Homo sapiens: one gene and its partners. The protein of the gene in region 4 purifies or fractionates together with the protein of the main gene of each other region. This does not show direct contact. Each region holds a gene or a part of one and is shown on either strand. Other genes may lie near its edges.

Evidence for each region.
Region 1: the proteins of UBXN7 (region 4) and HSD17B10 purify together in Homo sapiens (affinity purification with mass spectrometry, with the first as the bait; one study listed by BioGRID). This does not show direct contact.
Region 2: the proteins of UBXN7 (region 4) and BRWD1 purify together in Homo sapiens (affinity purification with mass spectrometry; 2 studies listed by BioGRID and IntAct, with this or other methods). This does not show direct contact.
Region 3: the proteins of UBXN7 (region 4) and FAM91A1 purify together in Homo sapiens (affinity purification with mass spectrometry, with the first as the bait; 2 studies listed by BioGRID). This does not show direct contact.

The regions. Positions count from the first base shown.
Region 1 is NC_000023.11:53,431,490-53,436,452, forward strand, and holds the start of HSD17B10 (3-hydroxyacyl-CoA dehydrogenase type-2), read right to left. Parts: upstream 2,882-4,963; 5' UTR 2,857-2,881; coding exon 2,830-2,856; intron 2,398-2,829; coding exon 2,233-2,397; intron 923-2,232; coding exon 758-922; intron 628-757; coding exon 499-627; intron 418-498; coding exon 309-417; intron 106-308; coding exon 1-105. UniProt on the Homo sapiens protein: Mitochondrial dehydrogenase involved in pathways of fatty acid, branched-chain amino acid and steroid metabolism. Acts as (S)-3-hydroxyacyl-CoA dehydrogenase in mitochondrial fatty acid beta-oxidation, a major degradation pathway of fatty acids.
Region 2 is NC_000021.9:39,191,552-39,195,843, forward strand, and holds part of BRWD1 (bromodomain and WD repeat-containing protein 1), read right to left. Parts: 3' UTR 1-4,292. UniProt on the Homo sapiens protein: May be a transcriptional activator. May be involved in chromatin remodeling. Plays a role in the regulation of cell morphology and cytoskeletal organization. Required in the control of cell shape.
Region 3 is NC_000008.11:123,788,228-123,792,519, reverse strand, and holds part of FAM91A1 (protein FAM91A1), read right to left. Parts: coding exon of another isoform or gene 4,287-4,292; exon of another isoform or gene 4,273-4,286; intron 2,908-4,272; coding exon 2,775-2,907; intron 1-2,774. UniProt on the Homo sapiens protein: As component of the WDR11 complex acts together with TBC1D23 to facilitate the golgin-mediated capture of vesicles generated using AP-1.
Region 4 is NC_000003.12:196,362,087-196,366,962, forward strand, and holds part of UBXN7 (UBX domain-containing protein 7), read right to left. Parts: intron 602-4,876; coding exon 208-601; intron 1-207. UniProt on the Homo sapiens protein: Ubiquitin-binding adapter that links a subset of NEDD8-associated cullin ring ligases (CRLs) to the segregase VCP/p97, to regulate turnover of their ubiquitination substrates.

The sequences.
Region 1 (4,963 bases), on a different chromosome or scaffold from region 4:
CATACTCAGCAGGGTCACCCAGTCGGCTAGGGAAGGGCACTTGGCTGGCCAAGAAGTTGCACACTTTCTCTGGGAGGCTGGTCAGCAGTGGGGTGCCAAACAGACCTAAACAATATAGCCAAATTCAGAGACTCACCCTTGCTTTCATGATTACCTGGTTCTTCCTTACTTTAGCCCTACTTCTTGGTGCTTCTCTGGGGCCCAAAGATAAAAGGCTGCTGCTGCTTAGGTGGTGGATACCTTCCCCTCTCAACTGTCCATGGATCCCACCCAATCCCAGGTATGATGGAGAGAGGGGATATGTCTACCTGGGGCAATGGTCATCACCCGGATACCTATGGGAGCCAGATCCCGAGCAATGGGCAGTGTCATGCCCACTATTCCCCCCTTGGAAGCAGAGTATGCAGCTTGTCCAACCTGGAGAAAGAGTAGAAGTCATAGGTGGGAGGGCCCCAACAAGTCACTTAGGAGGCATAAGTCTTACCCCTGCCCACACACCTGACCCTCGAAGGCAGCCACACTGGCAGTGTTGATGATGACCCCACGTTGGCCTCCCTGGTCTGGTTCATTCTGGCCCATCTCACCAGCCACCAGGCGGATCACATTGAAGGTGCCCATGAGATTCACCTGTAGGACAGATGGAGACATGCTATAGGACCTGAGGCAGAAGAAGCCTTTGTCCCCTAAAAACTTTGGGGTCCTCCACAGCCAGATACTTCTTACTACCACTATCCCTGGAGAACTTCCAAGGCCTTACATCAAGAACTCGCTGGAAGTCTTCCAAGGTATGGGTCTGGCCCTTCTTTAAGTTGTACGTCTTGCTAGCCACCGCGATGCCTGCACAGTTGACAGCTACATCCACACGGCCAAACTTTCCTTTTGCTAGAGCCAGAGCTGTTTGCACATCCTTCTCAGAGGTCACCTTCAAAGAGAGAAGTGGAGAAGGTATTCATCTCCCAGCACCCACTCTTCCCACTAAACCTGAGGGAGGGCAGGGCAGGGCATGCCCAGTCCTTGGGTGAGAAGAGATTTGTGAGAAGGGAGAGGCCAAGAGAAAGGTTGTAAAACTTGAGAGATAGGCTGGGTGCGGTGGCTCATGCCTGTAATCTCAGCACTTTGGGAGGCCGAGGCTGGTGGATCACTTAAGATCAGGAGTTTGAGACCAGCCTGGCCAACGTGGTGAAAACCCGTCTCTACTAAAAATACAAAATTAGCCGGCATAGTGACACATGCCTGTAATCCCAGCTACTTGGAAGGCTGAGGCAGAAGAATCGCTTGAACCCGGGAGGCAGAGGTTGCAGTGAGCTGAGATCGTGCCATTGCACTGCAGCCTGGGCAACAGTGAGACTCTGTCCCAAAAAAAAAAATTGAGAGAGTAGGTCAAAGGTGAAAATATTAGGTAATATAGAGCAGTGTTGCAAAAACATTTTTCAAATCAATACCTTCTTGATAAATTCACATGCTCCTGAAGATTCTTAATTGCTGTGGATCAGAGCACTAATGCAACCCTGTTGTGAGGCTGGGTGCAGTGGCTCACACCTGTAATCCCAGCACTTTGGGAGGCCGAGGCGGGCGGATCACGTGAGATCAGGAGTTCAAGACCAGCCCGGCCAACATGGTGAAACCCCATCTCTTCTAAAAATACAAAAAAAAAAATTAGCTGGGCGTGGTGGCAGGTGCCTGTAATCCCAGCTACTTGGGAGGTTGAGGCAGGAAAATCGCTTGAACCCAGAAGATGGAGGTTGCAAGGAGCTGAGATTGTGCCACTGCACTCCAGCCTGGGCAACAGAGCGAGACTCCATCTCAAAAATAAAAATAAAAAATAACCCTCTTGTGAGAATTATTGATAGGAAGATAAACTAGCTTTTTTGTATCCTTACCTGCTAAGATGATTTCATCAAGTTTCACTTTCTGTAGTTTGTTTCATGAAAACAAGTTTTTTGACTTTGTAAATATAAAATTACAAGGCACAAAATGCATTTTCAAACCATACATAACTCCTCCAGGAGATTGTTACGTCCAATCCCCATCCTCATTGTTGTGAATCCCAGCTTTAGAGAATCCTTATCACAGGTGGTCCCACAGTGCTTGAAGGCTCAGGCCAAAAGAGACAAGGAGATGGGTCTACCGCCCCCATAGAGGAGACCCTTATGGGAGGGACCCCCACAGGTTCCCAGGCCGGTGTTGGTGACCTCATGCACACCCTGGGAGAGGAGAGGTGACCCCACTTACGTCGGCTGGGGCGAAAACGCAGTTGTTTCCTAACTTCTTGGCTTGGGCCTCCCCACCCGAGTTGGGCAGGTCCAGAAGCACAGCAGAGGCTCCCTGCCCCACAAGTCGCTCCGCCGTGGCCAGGCCCAGGCCCGAGGCTCCTCCGGTTATTACCGCCACCAGGCCCTGTCAAAAGGGACATGGTCAGGGTCAGCTGTTACATTGCCCAGACCATCCCCACGCTGTCGCCTGCCTGTTCTCCAGGCTTCTGAGGAGAAGGGGGGAGGGGAGAGGTCGTGGTCACCCCTGCGGGTAAACTAGGTGTGCTGCTTCTCCTCAGCGTTGGGACCTCGGGGGCAGAAGGGATCTCATCCCCAGACAGCCCGTCCCGTGACGATAGATAGATAGATGATTGATAGATAGATAGATAGACAGACAGACAGACAGACAGATGCGCCGCGGAGTGCTGACTTTCACCTCTTGAGCCCAACGGCCACAATACCAGGCCTACATAAGCATGACCCTTTCCCTCGAAACCGATCTCTTTCTCCTAGTTCCACGGCCGCGCTGTCCCGGCCCGTAAAGGAAGGCAAGCAACAGAGGCAAAGAACCTTCTACCTTCACGCTCCGACACGCTGCTGCCATCTTGTCGCCGGCCACTCCACGGGATGGGGATGGGGGCGCGGGCGCTCGTTGATTGGCCGAGGCGAAGCGGCGGAAGGGGCGGATGCGACGGGCCGGGGCGTCTGCCGCTGCCGCATGAGACGTGGGGGCGTGGCCTGGTACGCTAGTCCTTTGGCCAGAGGGCGGATTCCGCCTGCTAAGGTATCCCCAGAGTTATTTCAACTGGGGAAAGAGACCAATAGCAGAAGTACAATACCACAACACCCCTCGCCCTACTCTCTAGCTGGCCTTTTGGCAAGTGGCCTGCTCCGCGTGGGGGAAGAGGGGTGGATATTGAGAACGGATGCCTTTCTCCTCTGAAAAAGTCTTAATTCAAGTATGAATGTATTTGAGACTCCTATATGCTAGACGGTGTGCGGGGCACCTGGGATACCCAGCGGAATAATAAAAGATTCATGCCTTCCAGGAGGGCACAGTCCAGGTGGAGAAAGAGAATTACAGTACAGACACAGACGAATGGACGGAACCAGATTCTGGGACACTCAGACAAGGAGATCCAAAGATGAGGAGTCTGAGTTAGAGAGAGAGAGAGCCATGTAAAGAGAAATATGTTGAGGCCGAGATAGGAAGAGAGATGCCAGGTAGGATCACAGAGAGATGAATGTGGAAAGCCGCTAAGAGAGATGCTTGGAGACAGACATTCTAGGACAGCTGCTGAGAAGCACAAACCTAAAGAGGCAAAAACATCTTTCATCAGTTCAGGCTTTGCTACTCTCCTCTATCTTTGTCTAATTTAAGTCCAAAAGCCCAGATCACACACTGCAGATTGGACTTCAACCAGAGACTATTATTTAAGACCCAGGTCTTTGTCATCCTAGAACATCTTTCAGGCAGCTTCCAGAAGCTATGTCATTAGAGTCTTGAGCCCAGATATCTAATCTGTCTTCCTTCTATACTTTTCCTCAAACCAAGGTCTTCAGGCCATAAATCTTAGCCCACCATTTCAGCCTCAGAACTGCTTTATGTTTTCTCTATCTGAAATATCTCCCCCCACTTGCTTTCTCACCCAGGAAGATTCCCCTCCAGGCCTTCTAGTTGTTGACAGCCACCACACTCATAATCACTACACCGTATTTACCAAAGGATTTAGCACACCGGTCTCACAATTTTCCTATCTACATGAAGTGCTTCCATCAATTTATAGCACTCTTCATCCGGCCCAATATGCTGTAGCCACAGTGGCCTCCTTTGTGTTCATCTTTGCATTAGCTGCTCCCTCTGCTTGGAATGCTCTCCCCTGATCTTTGCATGACTGCTTTTATTTTTTTTCATTCAGAACTAAGCTTAAATATCACCTTCCCAGAGGGGTCCTCCCTAAATATTCAAACTGTAGCCACCTAGACACTATCCCATTGCATATTTGAATTATCTTCATAGCACTTGCATGTCCGTAATCCATTTTCCAACCTTAGGGCCAGATGTGCTGTGGAATTCAGAGTTTTTTTCAATTTGAGAAAGGAAGACATGTAATTTATATTACATAACTCTTTAAAAAAACTAGTCAAACATAACTTTTTGTATAGTCTATATTATATAACTATTGAGAAAAGCCTGGAGCATCGTAATGAAATATTAATATTTCTGAAGTGAAAGGTATGAAAATTCACACCAAGTGTGAATAAAGACTATAAATAGCCTCACACTACTTCAGGTCAGGTTTTGTCATCTATTGAGTTTGGGCTCCAAAGTATGAAAAAACAACCTTATGCTTTTCAGAAGTTTTGGCATTGCAGGATTGTGCCTACAGGCTTGTGAGCCTGCATGCTCCGCTAACCTGGCCTTGTTTGTGTAGTTCTCCCCCTGCTGGAAGGTAAGCCCCATGGCACCAGGGGCTTGTCCAGCTGGTTCACCTAATGCCGAGAACACTGCTTGGCGTGTACAAGACACTTAAAACAAATGTGTGAAATAAATGAATTAATGAATTAATCTTGGAAGAATTTCCAGGCACAGTTTCATGATTCTTTCACCTGCCCAACTCCGGGAACCTTCACCTCCTCTCTACTTTAACCACCTGTCCAGGCCACCTTATTGCACTTGTCATTCCCTGGAATAACCTCCTGCCCTCCCC
Region 2 (4,292 bases), on a different chromosome or scaffold from region 4:
CAGGCTCATGTAATTTTTTGATTGGGATTTTGTAGGTGAATATATAGTTGCAGTCCAAGGACTGATTCACATTTAGAAAATTAACTTGAATATATCAAAAATTAAAGATCCCTTTAACTTTTACCCACTGATCAAAAAAGGTAATTTTTAAAATGATTTACCTTGTAAAACAAAGGGGTAGAGCTGCTACAGTCCATCTAGGCTCTATATACTGGTCATCTCATTTCAGTTAGGTCAATTGGACTGCCTCTTCTCTTTGGCAGTCTAAAATCTCATTTAAGGGCTTTAATAAATGAAAAAACTTACCTTAAAACTGACATAACTAAAATATGACCAGAAAGTATACCATAGCATTGATAATTAAATTCAAACTATTGGTCTTGCCATACTTGAGAAACAGATGTATAGTCTAATTATTTACATGTTGCCAAAGATAGAGCCTGCAGATTGGTAGAATCCAAATGATGTGACTCTCCCCCTCCCTCCATCAAATCTAGAAAAGCAATTCTTGAGCAGACACCAATTTAAAGATATTTTTCTACCAATTTAACAATATATTAGGAACCAGCTTGGCAGATTATGAAAAAGGTAAAAATCTCTTACTTTTGAGAATCCCCATGTATCCTTGGGCAACATCTCTGTAATTTAACAGCCTTTAAAACTTAAAATCGTAAGAAAAGACAACACAGCCCTTAGCATTACATACTTTACTTTTCAATCCTTACTATTCACAGTTTGAGCTAGGAATTAACATTTGCTAATCTAGTTGGACTCAGTTTTTCCCACAATGCTCTATTTTCTCACCTAGTTTTGACAAATTTATTCCTTCTCTTCCCAAATACTAGGATAAGAGACAGTCTCAAACTGTTAAGTTGCAAATTTCTTGGGGTTTCTGCTTTATTATTTCCTTGATATCCACAGCAGAAATTCAGAGGTATAACTTCAACATTAACAGGTGAAAAGTTCTACAATGACTTGTTGCACTCTATCACATTAAAATAATTGAACTATAATTTCCATACAACATAAGAAAACTACAGTATTTGGTGACAACTGCAAGATACCTGATAAATAAATATATCAACTTACTATTCATGAAAAGAATGGAGCTGGTTATTTCAGCTTTAAAAGGGCAAAGCAAAAAGACCATTTTCTAGCCATTTAAAAGTTACTCAAAAAATTGATACAATGGAGTGGAAAGGAAAACAAAAAAGATCGTAAGCACCTTTAACAATGTTCTTGCATTCTACTGATATACAAACCTCTGGGGTTTCAGTTGGCACAATCAAGTTCAACTTGTACTAACAGAAAATATTAAAATTCTTCCTATTTTTAATATCAAACAGGGAGGTTAGTAAATTGTTTTCTGATTCTTCTACAAAAAAAAAAGTCTAGAAGACAGAGGGAATGTAGTGTGCACCCCTTATTCTAAGTGATAATTTTTACTTACGAGGTCATAACGAGTGCAAAGGGCTTAGTGATGCATCTTATTCTTTACTTTTGGACAGTAACACCCTCAGATGGTATTTTTATTGGTTTGTTTTATATTCCCCTTTTCCATTTGCCCTTCTGTTTTGAAGTGCTTTTTCTTAAAACTTAAGTTCTTTGCCTCCATTTTCTTATAAACCCAATTTCCTCTTTAGGTGCAGCTCTACTATTTGAAAGGAACCTTTCTGTTGTAATTTACAAGCTGTGAGTAACTGCTATATCATTGTTTCCAAGGATTAATAAACTGAGAAATGATTTAATCAGATATTTGCCACTTACAAAAAGGGAGGCTGACCTTAGGAATTATTTGAATATGGGATAAACTTTTCCTTTTATTCATAAGTTACTTCACATTGTAAGTATACCTTTTTAAATAAGGAGGACACGAAAAAAGAAAGCTTTGTTAACACTCATCTATCTTGTCAATGTTTGAAATCATTTTTCCTTTATATGCTTGGTAAAGTGAGTCTTTCCAAGAAAGCAAAAATCAAATCTGAGTACTTCAAAGCCTGTAAAACCATAAATGAATAAAACCATAGGACTTTGGACATACACAACCAAAGTAGTTTTTGTTTTTCACATACACCATTAAGTTGAACTTCAAGTGCAGTGGAAAGGTACAGCACTTATTTCTGGATCAGTTCACATTCAAATTATAACCCTTTATCTTTTTCTCAAGAATACTACAAACTGACCCTAAACATTAAAGTACACCTGTGCATTAAATCCCTGGGCATTTTGCATAACGTAGAAAAAAAAGGCCAAACATGTTCTAGTGCTCAATGTAAACATTTTAACTATTAATGATTTATTAATTTTCCTTAAAGGTACTTAGGAGTGTGTGTGTCACATATTCAAAGTTAACCTTAGGAATAGCACCATAACCAAAAAAACCCATAAAAATTATTTTCTCCATTATCTCTCAGTTTTATTTCATAACTTGAGAAGCTACCATTGTCGGCTATGCTTTTAAAGACATCAGGTCCATTCTTGCTGCTTCTGATGAAACCAAATCTGATTAAAAACCAAAATACCACTTCTGTATGCAAGGGTCTAACTATTTTGGACTGAAAGAAAAAATGGTAATTGGATGGCCAGTCAATGACCAATTAATGCAGTCCAAATAATCAGAATAGTTCTATTAATGAAGCCTAAACTGTCAAAATATTGTTTTATACCAAAAGAATGTATGTACTTATGAATGTATTCCATATTTATTTATGGATTTTTTTGGTACCTTTTTGCAAATGATGGTAAACATGGAGTTAAAACCTGAGAACAGATTATAAAAGAGAAGGTTAAGAAGAGTTTAAATAAATTAATGGATTTGACATCTATCACCAGTTTTTAAAATTAGCAAAGTAAAAGGCATCCCATTAGTCTTTTCAGTCTTAGTCAAGGACAATTATCATGAATCAATCTGTTTACTATCTACTTAACACAAGTTCTGAGAAGAAAAGCATCATAGTTCTGAAATGGTGATAGCTCTCTAAGCCACAAATGAGAGGAGGTTTCCCACCTATCTCAGTTGATAATGTCCAAAAACATCCTTCCCCATGCATCAGAGTAGAAAGAAAATGTACCTTCTACTATGTCAAATGGAATAGATAACTACAAAATAGGAACACTTCAGAACATTCTCTAACATTAATACCAGTCTGATGCTTCGCCTTGTCTGCCACTTCAAAGATACACAGGAGAAAAGGTTTTGTCTGAAACCAAACACAATTAGGGCTAATAAATAACATTGTCTAATATTGATACCAGTCTGATGCTTCACCTTATCTGCCACTTCAAAGATACACAGGAGAAAAGGGTTAATTTTGTCTGAAATCAAACACAATTAGGGCTAATAAATAACTTACAGGTGGGGTACTGTAACATATCCCTTACCCACTAAATATGTAAACCATTTGAATCAAGTCCATCTTCAGGCACAAACAAGTTAGGAATGGCCATCTACACTGGAGTAGCATAACCTATCAAGTATTTGGTTAGAAAATAAGTGTACTATTTGTGTGATAAACTTTCACTTTAAATGGATTATAAAATTATTTTCCCACAAAACATGACAGTTTCTTATATTTGGACTAGAAGTCACTAATAAAGATACATTTAGTTGCCCCAGCAAAGAATGCTTAGGATTGCACATGGAAGCAGTAAACTAAAACAAAGAGATGGAGAATGACATTTAGCTATTTTCCTATATAGATAAGATTTGCAATTGTACTCTTAACAAAACTCACCTCTACAATTGGAATACAGATGGGGGAAACCTACATATTAACTTAAATACTCTTTTAGCCCTGTACACTCTATTAAAGAACACACTTCTAAATCTAAGGCACACGAATTCCTCTATTTCACAGAGTAAGATTATGGAAGAGCAAGATTTTGGTTAAATCCCTTACAATGGAAACCAGGAGATCTTGGACAGAAGACAGATTATATAGCATTTTGTTAGTGCACAATTTAAAAGAAAATGCTCTGACTATGCTCTGGTCCTAGAGGTTTAAAACATGCACTCAAATCATTAAAAATAATTTACCAGCACTTTATAAATTCAAGTTTATAACATAAAAGTGACAACGTTTTCCTTAAGAAGAAAAAAACCCAACAGCACTTGGGAAGAAAATTAGAAACCATTTCAATGAAAGTGACCAGATCTGGTATAATGCATTCTACTCAAGTAGCCAGGGGAAGAAAAAAAAAAAAGTGGTAGGTACCTCGCCTACTAATCATGGTTACACCTCCCATGATTATAGTGTCAGTATGCATGTATTTATGAAGAATCTGTAAACATA
Region 3 (4,292 bases), on a different chromosome or scaffold from region 4:
TACTAATCACAGTTAAACAATGTCCTTTTAAAGACAAAGATACCTGGGGGAAAAAAATCATGCTTAGAAAACGAGAAAAAAACAGACCACGCATGACTTTTATTTATAAACAGTACGCCGTGCTATTTAAAACCAAGGGATTAAGGACTCCTAGGACTAAGACACTAGTTCCATGTATAACAGAGTTTGCTTGTATAATATCACAATGCTTTTGCTTTATAGTAGATAACAAGTACTACATGATATACTCAAAGTATAAATTATTAGTGACATAAAAAGAAAATTCTTTTTCCTCAAACAAGACGCTTAAAACACCAATACTAGAGGATTTCTTTTTTTTCTTCTGAGACGGAGTCTCAGTCTGTCACCCAGGCTGGAGTGCAGTGGTGTCATTTCAGCTCACTGCAACCTCAGCCTCCCAGGTTCAAGCAATTCTCCTGCCTCAGCCTCCCGAGCAGCTAAGATTACAGGTGCCTGCCACCACACTTGGCTAATTTTTATATCTTTAGTAAACACGAGTTTTCACCATGTTGGCCATGCTGGTGTTGAACTCCTGACCTCAAGTGAACCGCCTGCCTCGAGCTCCCAAAGTGCTGGGAATACAGGCATGAGCCACCACACCCGGCAGAGAATTTCTTTTCTAAAAAAGAGTAAGGTTCAGTTACCAAGCCCAGTAACTGCAGAAAGCAACATTTCTCAACAGGCTGAGCATGAAGCCTTAATGCCCTAAGATATCCTCTACATAGAACGAATGACCTTTTTCATGCATTGAGAACGGTACTAATGTGCACCATCATTAGAAAAACTGAGAAATAGTCACGCCAATCATTTCCATGTTCTGCAATTCAGATGAGGAGCTAAGCTAAGAAATGCTGGTAGCAAAAATGAAATTTCATAAGTAATTGCAGGTTTGGTCTTAAGGGGAGGCATTCATCAAATTTAACTTTGGAGACCCAGCAATTATTCTAAGCAATTAAATCTCCAACTAGGGTCAGGAACAGTCTAACATTAAACCCACCTTAAAGGTTAGGATTGCACAGGACTATTTTCATAGAGAATAGGTTTAGATTTACCATTTAACTTACTTCATGGTACACTGACTATTCATGGGGAAAAAATTTAGCCCAGCCCAGACTACTAAGCAACAAATGTTTATGGGTAAATGAATACAAAGCTTAGCGTTCAAGAGAAGATAATATAGGGACAGGGCAATGGAAAAAAAAAAATCAACAGACACAGATTCAAGTCTTCCATTCCTGGCTCTTCCATTTACTAATAATATGGGCTTTGATGACTAAAAAACAAGCAGAAGATTTAGCTAATATAAACTCCAATTTCTTTATCTATAATAGGAGTTACACTTCACTGGTCACTAGTACTCTCTAATGTTCTCACATTCTGTGATAGGCAGGAAAGGACAATGTATTTCAAGACAGCTTTAACAGAGTATTTCAAATCATCTAATACATTATCTCCATAAATCACTAAAAAGTCCCAGAAATTCCAGGAGTTTTATATCCAAAGACATCCTCAAGACTGTGCCACTCACCACTGCTTTATCACATGATTTAGTATTTATTAACCAAAAATGGTTATCCATCAACAAATGCCTACCAGTAAGTGCTTAGGACTCTCGGCATTTGGCAATTTAATATTCTCAGTTTTAACTATTTATGAATGATCTCAAAAGCCCCAGTATGTAACAATCTGTAATTCTTCAGATAAGGCATATTAAGGCTGCAGAAGTGAATCACTTGATACCAAGTGAGTCTAGCCTCACTCAAGTAAACTACCCAGCATGTTTGTTCTCACCTATGTGACAGCTTGTTAAGTAACAGCTGAATCCTCCCTCAATTTTTAAAATTGAGCTGAAAAGAAAGCCAGATGCTAGTGAGAGAATAAATGAAAATGGAGATGATTAAGAAACTGATGTTCTTGGCCAGAAAAAATAGTTTTTAGGTAAATGAAACTAATCAAAATTAAACGTTATAGTGGTATTGAGGACCCATGAAGCCCCAAGACACAACTCTTGTGAATGTCTAAGAACTTGAGCCAAGTGCTCATGCAGGGGTGCCCAAGCCTAGCTGAGCACTGGAATCATCTTTTAAAAAACACACATTCCTGAGTGCCATGCCACACCTCAAAACCTACTGAATCCAAATCCCCATCTGGGTAGAAATTCTGACACCATCAATTCAACTAAAGTTTGGGAACCCCCAACTATCACAAAACTGAGAGTGCCCAGTAGGGCAACAGCTCCATTAAAGTTCATCAATACCTTAAAATTGCTGCTACTTCTTTTACTCTTTAAAAAGAATTATCTATTTCCTTTTTAAAAGTAAAATCTTTTGGTAAGTATTGCAGTAGCATTTGAACAGAAGGCTCCTCTTTATTCTTTTCATTATGATGGAATCTTTCATTCTTGAAATTTTATGCTTCCTACATTAACTAAAATTTTGCCCTTGTTCACCCCTCAGAGCTGATGCCTGTTCTAAATTCCATCCAGCTACTTAAATAAATTAACACCAACACTTTTGCAGGTATTGAACAGATTTAAATACTACAAATGTTAGTGGCACATGAGAAAAGTAAAATAAGGTTAAGAAACAGTTAACAAGCAAGAAATTCACAAAACAGGCCTCTAGTTATAAATTCAATATGCTATCTACACAAAATACGTAAGTGATGATTATATAAGTGAGCATGATCTGTTTAATTTCTTAGAAAAAAGTTTCATATGATCATGTCTTCAAAATTAAATATATTTATCATACCATAATTGGGTTGGTCTGGCTGTGCAGTTTGCGCAACTAGATCTTTGTTATGACGCAGAAACAGTATTGTGTTTCTCAGAGTAAGTGCATGATCAAAATATCTCTGTGCTTCTCCTTCACCAGTGCTCTGAACCTAAACCAAGAGAAAATAGATTTTGCAACAAAAATACCACTTTTATGCCATTCACTCTAATAATCATATAATAGAGATATAAGACATTATTCAAAAGTAGTAAATCAAAAATTTGCCCAGGCAATACCGAAACAAGTTATTAACCTCAGTCTTGGTTGAGTTCCCAATTTTACTACATCTATGGAGATAGAAATTACTTCAACTAAGACTAACAATTTTAGCAATTGAATAATGCTAAGTTATAGCATTATATGTTACATGTTCCAAATGATTCAAATAGAGTGCTTAAACAACTCTAAAACCCGTATTCTGCTCCATCTAGGAAAGTACTCCAAGGTCACCAGTTTTACCTATAATTCTCATAACTTTGTTCACAATTCTGTATTACCAGTTACAAGAGACACTGGAGTCTGTGATTCAACATAGCTGTTCACCATTGCTGAACACACAGCTTAAATTCACTCAACAAAGATTTACTTAGTGCCTCCTATGGACTATGACCTCCCTAGGAGATAAGGATAGAGTAATGGACAAAACCCCTGCCTTCACTGGCCTTATAGTTTAATGTATGCTCTTCTGAATAAGTCTGAATAAGTCACCTTTTAATAAGTAGAGACATATATCCCAGAAACAACACAGAAAATGGAATGATAGGTCTACCAACGGGAAAATAACTAAATCAGATTTGCATACATTTAAGAAATCAATCTTAAGATCAAACTACTTAAAAAATAGCTAAGAATCCACTTTAAAAACTAAGCCTCAGACTGAAAGGCTTTCCCAAGAATGACTTTGTGATGAAAAAGAACATAGATTTATGAGTAAAAGAGCAGAAGTCAACTTGCAATTTGCTACATTTGATAAAAGACTAGCTGAGGTGAAAAAAAGATAAAAATCAGAAAACCAGAACTTGAAATGTGCAGTAACATAGTAAGAAATTTATTAGTAGAAGATAATATACAATAAGAAATGGGGTTAACAAATAAAGAAGCATGAAGAAATAAATGGCAGTATAAAGGTAAAAGTAAAAGAGACCAATTAATAGCAAAGGATTATCTCACACATATTTCTGCACTAATAAAAGTAAAAATCCTATGGAGTAGGAGCAGTGAAAAATGTTACAGTCTTTTTTTTTTAAGATATAAAGGAGTTGCAGAATCACCACAAATTCTCTAAACAGTGCATTGAAAATACAAAGTTCATCATAAAGCACAAAAGGCACGAAAAGTATTAGTCAAGGAACAGATTAGGCACACAAACTATTTGAATACAAAGAGGCCAGAATAAAATATCCGAAGAATGAAAAACACCAATAAAGGGCAATCAGATTTATTTAGAGCTAAGGAAAACTAGGGCTGTACTCACGGGGAAAAAGGTGGTTAAGA
Region 4 (4,876 bases):
TGGTTCAAGCCACTCTCCTGCCTCAGCCTCCCAAGTAGCTGGGACTATAGGCACGTGCCACCACACCTGGCTAAGTTTTGTATTTTTAGTAGAGACAGGGTTTTGCCATGTTGGCGAGGCTGGTCTTGGAACTCCTAACCTCAGTGATCCACCACGCCCGGCCCCAATATCTAAGTTTGAAGTAAAGTATGTCTAAATGTAACTTACCATTTACATCTATCCCCTCCACTACTCCATCTGCTTTTTCAGGTGGCATCTCCAGTATCTCTGAATCCACAGCTGGCAATCCTTGGTGGTTTGTGGCTGTTCCAGGATCAGTTCTGACTGGTGGCTCAGTCAGCGGCCTTCTATTCTCCTCTTTTCTATGCCCCAAATCTTTGTGGGGAGACTTTCTGGACTTGGCAAGATTCTCTACCTCTTCTTCTTCATCAGAGCCACAAACGGATATGAACTCCTCACTGCCAGAAAAAAGTTCAGATTCAGATTCTTCATCTGAGCGGCTATCCTGTTTTGTCTGTGTTGAATCAAAATGTGTTTCTTGTAAGGAGGCTCTGATGGCAGCTTCTAGCTGGCTGTCTTCACTTGCATCTATAAGGCTCTCCTGTGAGATGGAGTCATAAAACACAGGAAAAAGAACAAGTTAAACCAAAAAACAAGTCAAACGGCATAAGAAATATAATAGCTTGCCATTCATTATTATGTTCTGCTGACTGTATCCCTTCTACTTTAAGAGCAAGGACTGTGTCTTACACAGCCAAATTGGAATGGAGATATATATATGTGTGTGTATATACACACACACACGTTTTTGTTGTTTTGTTTTGTTTTGTTTTTGAGATGGAGTCTCACTCTTGTTGCCCAGGCTGGAGTGCAGTGGCACGAACTCGGCTCACTGCAACCTCAGCCTTCCCAGGTTCAAGCGATTCTCCTGCCTCAGCCTCCCAAGTAGCTGGGATTACAAGCGCCCGCCACCACGCCCAGCTAATTTTTATTTATTTATTTTTTTGTATTTTTAATAGAGATGGGGTTTCACCACATTGGCCAGGCTGGTCTCAAACTCCTGACCTCGGCCTCCCAAAGTGCTGGGATTACAGGCGTGAGACACCGCACCTGGCACATACATACATACATACATACATACATACATACATACATACATACATAAATATATATATACACATATTTTTTTTTCTTTCTTTTTTTAAGAGACAGGGTCTAAGTTCCCCAGGCTGGTCTTGCACTTCTGGATTCAAGTAAGCATACGCATTTTTTTAAATATCAAAATGAAGGCCAGGCCGGGTGGCTCATGCCTGTAATCCCAGCACTTTGGGAGGCCCAGGTGGGTGGATCAAGAGGTCAAAAGATCGAGACCATCCTGGCCAACATGGTGAAACCCCGCCTCTACTAAAAATGATTAAGCTTAGTGAGAAAGGCATGTGGAAAGCTGAGACAGACACAAAGCTAGGCCTCTTGCACCAAACAGCCAAGCTATGAATGCAAGGAAAAGTTCTTGAAGGAAATTAAAAGTGCTACTCCAGTGAACACACAAATGATAACAAAGCAAAACAGGCCAGGCACAGTGGCTCACACCTGCACTTTGGGAGGCTTGAGGCGGGCAGATCACCTGAGGTCAGGAGTTCGAGACCAGCCTGGCCAACATGGCGAAACCCCATCTCCACTAAAAATGCAAACATCAGCTGGGCATGGTGGTGCGCGCCTGTAGTCGCAGCTACTCAGGAGGCTGAGGCAGGAAAATCACTTGAACCCGGGAGGCAGAAGTTGCCAGAGATTGCGCCACTGCACCCCAGCCTGGTGACAGAGCGAGACTCCATCTCAAAAAAAAAAAAAAATCAAAACGAACAAAATCAAGAAAAGTTTATCTATTACCTGCCTAGAGAAAGACAAGAATTAAAAGTTTTAACTATAAAGTCAAAACACCATTCTTTAAAATGACTAAAACATAGAGACAAATGTTTACTTTGTTCACCACTGCATTCTTCAACTAGTAATTCCATTAATTACAATGAAGGTTTTCATTATGATAACAAGAAATGCAAACTTCTACAGTTTTTCCCTTGGTAAAGTTCTAATGCCACAGATTTTACTAAACTTAATGAATCACAAAATACGTTGTTTGAGTGGAACTTACTTAGCTCCTGACTCAAACATACTATAGAGGAAAGAAATCGTAAGATAATCTAAAATTGAACACTGGATATTTCAGGATATTACAGAATTACTGCTCATTTTTAAGGGTATAATAATGACATTGTGATAGTATTTTTAAAAATAAAAAAGGCTTTATCTTTTAAATATATATGCCAGAGTATTAATTAATGAAACAATGAATTCTGAGATTAGCTTCAAAATAATTCAGATGTGATGGGATACAGAGGAAAGAAGACTGGCCATCTGCTGATAATTACCGAAATTAGCTAACAAAGAGGCTCAATAAACTACTTCAACTTTTGAATATGCTTAAAATTTTCCATAATAAATAGGTAAAAAAAAAAAGTGTGAGTTGCTAATAAAAAACTAAAGAAACCACATTTTGGCTTTTACTATCAGGCAATCATGTAGCAAAAAATTAAAGGGAAAAACATTTTTTTGCTGGTTGTTTTTTTTTTTTGAGAGAGGTTCTACTCTGTCACCCAGGCTGAAGTGCAGTGGCACAATCTCAGCTCACTACTATCTCCACCTGCCAGGCTCAAGCAATCCTCCCACCTCAGCCTCCCAAGTAGCTGGGATTACAGGCACACACCACCACACCCGGCCAAAGGAAAATTTTAAAGTAAACTTCAGGCGAACTTACCACCCCTAAAAAGCAAGTAGAGGTGTCTATGTGACATGCAATGGCTTAGGTGGATTGTAAATTTATAGCAATGACATTGCACATATAGCATGTAGCTCGATTTTAAAAATTGTGGCCATGGCAGACACTGTCAGGCTCCTATTGAATTTCATTCTCCTCTGATTTCCTTACTTATATAACCCTATTTAAGTTTATAAAACGTGTTCAACTAAAAAATTCATTTTACTAATTTCTCTTGTAGCTAGAAAATAGTATTGAGCAATAGCAATTCTTATCGAAAAATTATAGAATTAAATGCTTATATTAGAAGAGAGAAAGGTATCAAATTAATGACCTAAGCTTCCCCACCTTAAAAAAAAAAAAAAAAAGAGTATACATCCAGGAAAAGAAAATAAAATTAAGCTCAAAGAAAACACAAATTAATAAATGACCTAGAAAGCAAATACAATAGAGAAAAACAAAAAAAACCCACCAAAATCCCAAGAGCAGTTTTTTGTTTTGTTTTGTTTTTTGTTTCTTAAGAGACAGAGTCTTACTGTTGCCCAAAGACTGGAGTGCAGTGACTACTCACAGGTATGATCATAGCACACTACATTCCTGAACTCCTGGGCTCAAGCAATATTCCTGCCAAGCAGATGGGACTATAGGCACATGCCACACCCCAGCTGGTTCCGTAAGATCAATAAAACTACTAAGCCTCTGGCCAGACAGTCGGGGGAAAAAAGGGAAGCCACAAATTCCCAAAAACAGAATTAAGAGAGGGGACAACTACAATCTCTACATTCATTCATGGCATCACGAGGGACTATAATGAACTCTGACAATATAGTAAAATGAACAAATCCCTAGAAAGATACAACTTGCTAAAGCTTATCCAAGAAGAAACAGATACCAAGTAGTCACGTATCTACCGATAAGATTGAATTTGTAGTTTAAAATTTTCCACCAAAAAAAAACTCTAGGCCCATGTAGCTTCACTGGTAAATGTCATCAAACATTAAGGAAGAAATAACAACAATTCTACAGACACTACTGCAGAAAACAGAAGAGGAAGAAATACTTCTCAATTCATTGTGAGGTCAGCATTAACATGTTACCAAAAGCAGAAAACGACATTATAAAGCATTACATGGAAGAAAGGAAACAACAACAACAAAATGCTCTCAAAAAAACTATAAATCAAGCAGGAGAACTGCTTGAGGCCAGGAGTTCGAGACCATCCTGGCCAACAAGATTTCTATACTATCCCTTAGGGCTTTTCCTTAAATAGGCACTTTATTATAGGTGATAACTGAAGGAAGTGTTCCTCACATCTTCTAAAACTATTTTTAGGCTGGGCATGGTATGGTGGTTCATGCTTATAATCCCAGCACTTCGGGAGGCCAAGGGAGGAGAATTGCTTGAGCTTAGGAGTTTGAGATCAGGCTGAGTAACATATTGAGACCCTGCCTCCACAAAAAATAAAAAATTAGCCAGGCATGATGGTGCACACCTGTAGTCCTAGCTACTCAGGAGGCTGAGGCAAGAAGATTGACTGAGCCCAGGAGTTCAAGGCTAGCAAGTTTTTTTTTTTTTTAAAGTTCTCTCAAGGCTGCAAAGACTACAGTGAGTTAATATCATGCCACTGCAGTCCAGCCTGGGCAACAGTGTGAGACCACATCTCAAAAAATACAATACAATACAATAAATACAATACAATACAATAAAAATGTTGCTAGGTGTGGTGCTCACACCCAGAATCCCAACATTTTGGGAGGCTGAGGCGGGAGGATTGCTTGAGGCCAGTTTGAGACCAGCCTAGACAACATACGGAGGCCTCCGTCTCTACAAAACTTTAACAGCTTAGCTGGCATGGTGATGCACATCTGTGGTCCCAGCTACTTAGGAGGCTGAGGTGGAAGGATCGCTTGAGCCCAAGAGGTGGAGGCTGTAGCGAGCCATGATCACACCACTGCACTGCAGCCTGAGAAATGGAACAAGATCCTGCCCAAAGAAAAAAACAGGACGGGCGCGTTAGCTCACGCCTGTAATCCCAGCACTTTGGGAGGCCGAGAAGGGCGGATC